Linked DNA regions of Homo sapiens: region 1 is linked to region 2. Evidence: fine-mapped expression QTL. A gene starts in region 2. The other region holds a variant in brackets. All regions are shown on one strand. Distances are between the middles of the regions. Region 1 has its middle 82 kb from the start of NEURL3. Region 2 holds the start of DUSP2 (dual specificity phosphatase 2).

Region 1 (2,900 bases), 280 kb after region 2:
CAAGGTTCTTAGCTTCATTGCATTGAGTTACAACATGCTCCTTTAGCTCAGAGGAGTTTGTTATTACCCACAGTCTACCTCTGTCAATTTGTCAAACTCATTCTCTGTCCAGTTTTGTGTTCTTGCTGGAGAGGACTTGCAATCATTTGAAGGAGAAGGGGCATTCTGGTTTCTGGAATTTTCAGCATTTTTGCACTGGTTTTCCTCATATTTGTGGATTCATCTACCTTTGATATTTGTGGCTAATGACCTTTGGATGGGGTTTCTGTGTGGGGCTTCTTTTTGTTGATGTTGATGTTATTGCTTTCTTTTTGTTAGTTTTTCTTCTAACAGTCAGGTCCCTCTTCTGCAGGTCTGCTGCAGTTTGCTAGAGGTCCACTCCAAACCCTATTTGCCTGGGTATCACCAGCAGAGGCTGCAGAACAGCAAAGATTGCTGCCTGCTCCTTCCTCTGGAAGCTCTGTCCCAGAGGGGCACTGGCCTGATGCCATCTGGAACTCTCCTGTATGAGGTGTTCGTCAACCCCTGTTGGGAGGTCTCTCTCAGTCAGGAGGCACGGGGGTCAGGGACCCACTTAAGGAGGCAGTCTGTCCCTTAGCAGAGCTCAAGTGCTGTGCTGGTAGAACCCTTATTGTCAGGATCCACTGCTGTCTTCAGAGTCGGCAGGCAGGAACGTTTTATTCTGCTGAAGCTGTGCCCACAGCCATGCCTTCCCCCAGTGGCTCTGTCCCAATGAGATGGGAGTTTTATCTATAAGCCCCTGACTGGGGCTGCTGCCTTTCTTTCAGAGAGGCCCTGCCCAGTGAAGAAGAATCTAGAGAGGCGGTCTAGTGTGAGCACAGATTTCTATTCTTAAGACTGAGTATAAGCTAAAAGCTGAATTAGAGTCTCAAGATTCTCTCTCTGTAAGAAGCTGGGTTACAGTCAAGTTTGTTTTGTTTTGTTTTGTTTTTAGAGACCAGGTTCTTGCTCTATCACCTAGGCTGGAGTGAGCAATCATAGCTCACTGTGGCCCTGACTTCCTGGCCTCAAGTGATCCTCCCACTTCTGCCTCCTGAGTAGCTGGAACTACAGCTGTGTATTAGTCTGTTCTCATGTGGCTAATAAAGACATACCCGAGACTAAGTAATTTATAAAGGAAAGATTTTTAATGGACTCACAGTTCCACATGGCTGGGGAAGCCTCACAATCGTGGTGGAAGATGAAGGAAGAGCAAAGAGACGTCTTACATGGCAGCAGGCAAGAAAGCTTGTGCAAGGGAACTCCCATTTATAAAACCATCAGATCTTGCGAGACTTATTCACTACCATGAGGACAGTATGGGGGAACCAGCCCTATGAGTCAGTTATCTCCACCTGGCCCTGTTCTTGACACTTGGGGATTATTACAGTTCAAGGTGAGATTTGGGTGGGGACAAGCCATATCAAGGTGCATGCCACCACACACACCTAACTTTATTTTATTTTTTAGAGATAGGATTGGCCCAGGCTGGTCTCAAACTCCTGGGCTTAAGCAATCCTCCTGCCTCAGCCTCTGGAAGTGCTAGGATTACAGACATGAGCCACAGTGCTAGGCCCAAGCATCTTTGATTGGAAGCTGCCTGCTGTACTGGAAGTCCCGCTCTTTGTTTGCAGTGGAGATGATTCATTCATTCTCTGACTCCTAGGCCTGGCTCTGGGCTGGTAAATTCTTCCTCACTTTGTTTCAAGTGGG[G/GA]ATCCCCTCCCCAAATCCTGGGCTGGAAGATTCTTCCCTGGCTCTTCATGAAGGCTCTCTGTTCTCTATTTGGCCCTGCTCCTCCCACGGGAATCTTTCAGTCCACTGAAACTTCCTTCTTGAACCCTGGCTAACTATATGCTCCACCAGCTCTGTCCATCTTCTTAGTGCATGAGCTGGCTGAGGATAATTTAGAACTTGATTGGTCTTTCTGGGAAACTTAAGACCTCCCCAAAACGGCCCCTCTAAGACCTCCGTCTTCCCATTATTTCCTCCTCCTTCCTCCTCCGACCACCTTTGATCTTCCCTTCAGCTCCCTTGAATCCTTTGATGTGTCCCCTTTAAACTCCTCCCCCTCCTGCCTCTGTCCACCCCCACCAGACATTTCTCTTTCCCAGCCCTTGGCTCCCTCAGCCATTTCAGTCCCCCTGCCCCAATCAGGGGCTCTCAGGGGACTCATGTTATCCCAAAAGCAACTTCCTGAAGCTGAAAAGAAAAAAGCTGATTGGAATTAGATTAAATTTTTATCCACTCACGTGGGCTGTGAGGACATTCAGGCAGCCCCCAGCATCTCCTTAGTAACATGCTTGAAATGTGATCCACAGGCTCCAAGGGATTACATAACAGGGCAGAAGGAAATCTTAAAAATCTCCCCCACAAACACATACACATACACAAAAGCAACACACAATTCAGATACAAATATCAAAGATAAGAGTGTATTAAAATTTTAGAATGGGCCTTGTGCAGTGGCTCATGCCTGTAATCCCAGCACTTTGGGAAGCCGAGGTGAGCAGATCACTTGAGGCCAGGAGTTTGAGACCAGCCTGACCAACAAACTGAGACCCAGTTTCTACTAAAAATACAAAAAGTAGCAAAGTGTGGTGGTGCATGGCTGTAATCCCAGCAATTCAGGAGGCTGAGGCATGAGAATCACTTGAGCCAAGATCAGGCCTGCACTCCAGCCTGGGCAACAGAGCGAGATTATCTCAAAAAAAAAAAAAAAAAAAGGAACGGAAAGCTGTAAGATCTCTATTTGCATTTGTCCATGTATGTATGTGATGTACATGTGATAGTTTTCTATCTCCACATGGTGTTGCCAAAATTAATTAATAAAAGAGCTCTGTCCAGTCTCTACCAAAAATACAAAAAAATTAGCCGGGTGTGGTGGCGGGCACCTGTATTCC
Region 2 (2,900 bases):
GGCGGTGAGGCCTTTCCAGCCCAGCCCCGGAGAGCTGGAGCAGCAGCGGGTGGAGACCCCATGGGCTGGCCGAGACAAGAGGACTCCTCAGCCAGTCCTCCTGACCTGAGACAGGTCTCAGGAATGTGCGGAGGACACACCGGGACATACATTTCCCTTCATGCTCCCAACATACACATGCAAACATACACAGACCCATACAGGCACGCGCGAGCAGCCATGCCCCACCCCCTCCCCCAACACACACACGTATAAAAGTGTGTGTATATGGGCAAACTGCTCGCATCCCCAAATGGCAGGCTCTTTCCCTAGAGGCGCCCAGTCCGCGGCGGGGAGAGAGGGAGGTTCGGGGGAGGGGGGTCAATACTCACCTGGTCGTAGACAGGAGCCCTGGAGTCGGAGCGGCTGGTTTTGTCCCCTGTTGGCGGCAGCGCAGGGGCGGGGGCCTCAGAGCACAGATCGGGACAGCAGCCCTGGAAGCCGTCGAAGCCTCCTGCAAGGAGGGGAAGAGCACGATCAGCAGGGAAAGCCGGGCTGGAGTCGGGTGGGGCGGGCCAAGGGCGGCCGGCTTGCTCACCTCGCAGGAAGTACACGGCAGTGGGCCCCGCGCGGGTCTCGTGCAGCAGCGCGGCCAGCAGCACATGAGCCGGGCTGTCGGGCCGGAGCTCCGCCACCGAGGCACTGCCCTCGTCCAGCACCACGGCCCGCGCCAGCTCCCCGCGGACCAGGCGCGTCCGCAGCGCGCGGTCGGGCAGCAGGCAGGCGAGAACGGCGGCAGGAGGGCCGCGCGCGCGGCGCCGCAGCAGCGCGTTCCAAGGCACTGGCCGCGCGGCGCGCACGTGGCGCCGGCAGAAGGCCAGGAAGGGGCGGCAGTCCAGCAGCAGCGTGCGTTCCGCCTCCCGCGGATCCCGCAGCAGCGTGCCCAGCGCCGCGCACTCCAGCTCGCGCGCCGCCTCCAGCCCCATGGCCACCGGTGCCTCTTCCTCTTCCTTTCGGTCTTTCCCGCGTCCCGGGCTCTCGTGGCGGTGGCGCTGCCCGAGCGGTCGACTCCGGGCGCCCTCCGCGGCGGCCCGGGTTAAGTACCCGTGGGCCGGCCTCCGGGGCACCATACAAGGGCAGAGCAGGAAGGCGCTGGCGCCCGCGCCCGCCCCCGCCCCTCACGTGGGGCGCAGTCTGGGCTGACCTGGAGACTTCGGGGCGGGGGGGAGGTTGAGGGGGAAGGCAGGGCGCGGGGACCAACACACCGGGAGGAGGCGGGGACCAGCGACTAAGGGAAGGGAAGGTGTTACCCGGAGTCGGAGGGACTAGCACCCCTCCGTTTTTGCGCCCACCCTTTGACCTGTCCCAAGCCACTCAGTCCTGGGGAACCCAGCTTCTCAGATGCAGGTCCCCCTTTAGGGCCAACGATGACCCTTGGAGTACCCCACCCCCTAACCCCACGCTTCCTCTGCCTTTTCCCTTTCCCTCCCAGAATTTTCCTCTTAGAAATTTGTCACCACAAACATTGACAAATGCCTGCTGCCACGGGTGATTTCTACACTGGATGATGGGGGGGGTCCCTGCTGAGATGTCCTATTTCTCATCTATTTGGAGACCTTGAGCCAGAGGGACTTTCTCTCTCCTCCCCCTCCCCACCCCCCATTGCCTGGATAAGACCAGTACTCAGGGTCTTGCAGTAGGTTGGTGGCCAAGCTAGGCCAGAACACAGTCCCCGGGGCCCAGGCCCCTGGGCTTGGGCCGAAGGGAAATGAGGGGGGGTCCCAGGGCCTTTCATGGGGAAAGCAGGGGTCTGTGACTGGTTTCCAGTTATGTGTAGGGCAAAGCTTCTTCCTCCTGGGTGCAGGGAAAGCCCCCAGGCCCCAGAGAGAAGTACTTCCCCCTGCCACAAGCCCGCCCTGGAGGGAAGTCCGCTGACGCTCCCGGCCCTCCCCAGGCCTGCGGGGATTTCAAGACCTTGGCAAGGGGAAGAGGGAGAAGCAGAACAGAACTGGCCTCCCCCATCCTAGGCCTCCCTGTCCAGCCCCGCCGGGCAGCAAAGTCCAGGGCTAGCACTGCACCCGGAGGACTGGGGGCCTGGGTATCCCCTCCATTCCGCCCTCCCCCAGCCCTGCTGCCGGATGTGGTGAGGCCCAGGTGTGCGTGGGGTGTCTGAGCCACAAGAATTGTTGGCAGTGAACTCCCAAACTCAAGCAGAGAAGTTGAGGTGGGTGGAGACAGCGTCACTGCGCTGGAGCTGCCCTCGCCCTGCCCCCAGCTGCGTGGGATTTCAGAACCCACCCTCCAAGCCCCCAGTCTCCTGAGGCCCTCCTCCGTGCCCTCTGAAAGACCCTTCCGGCTCCCCCACAGACCCCTGTGTCCAGACCGTCTTGAAGAGTGACAGCTGGGACCTGTGGAGAGCCCGCAGCCCTTCTGGACTTGTCTGCCCTGAGTTCCTCACAGCAGTGTGCTGTATGCCTGGTTGTGTGCAGGGCAGCATCGTACCTGTGCAGTTCCACTATGTGTGAGAAGGAGCTGGAGCTTGTGTGTGCTGGGGTCAGAGCCGATGCAGAGGAGAAAAGCCCCAAGGACTCCAAAGGTCCCTGGGGCCACGTCACCCTCTCAGTGTCTCCATCTGTAAGGGGAGCACATCATGGTGCAGCGGCTCTTCCACACTGGCTCCAACGCTCTAAGGCTACTCCACTGTCTGGGCAACTTGGCTGAGGCCCCGCTGTCCCTGGCAGGCCAGTCTGGAGGCTGAGGCAGCAAAGCCCACAACAGAGCCAGGGAGTCTGGGCCACAGATCCCAAAGGCTGATATGAGCCCTTATCTTTGGCATCGGCCTCCAAATGACTTAATGCTTATTCCAGGGGCAAATTACAGAGCGTGCAGAAGGACAATCAGGTCCAGTCTTGCTGCTGGGC

The links. PIP is the estimated chance that this variant, and not a neighbour inherited with it, causes the effect. A credible set is the group of variants that fine-mapping cannot tell apart.
Region 1: its variant is the best candidate, but not a certain one, in a credible set for the expression of DUSP2 in whole blood (TOPMed, PIP 0.63).

Annotation. Positions count from the first base shown.
Region 1 is chr2:96,421,842-96,424,741 of GRCh38, forward strand. No RefSeq gene overlaps it. Among named protein-coding and RNA genes, the nearest start is that of NEURL3, 82 kb to the right of the region's middle. RefSeq lists an enhancer at 1-488. The variant G/GA (reference allele first, on the strand shown) is at 1,714.
Region 2 is chr2:96,144,390-96,147,289 of GRCh38, forward strand. It overlaps DUSP2 (dual specificity phosphatase 2), which reads right to left and starts at 1,051. Exons shown (of 4, transcript NM_004418.4): 1 at 578-1,051; 2 at 372-493. The coding sequence starts at 965. RefSeq lists enhancers at 1-30, 433-934, 1,731-2,610 and a silencer at 661-1,420.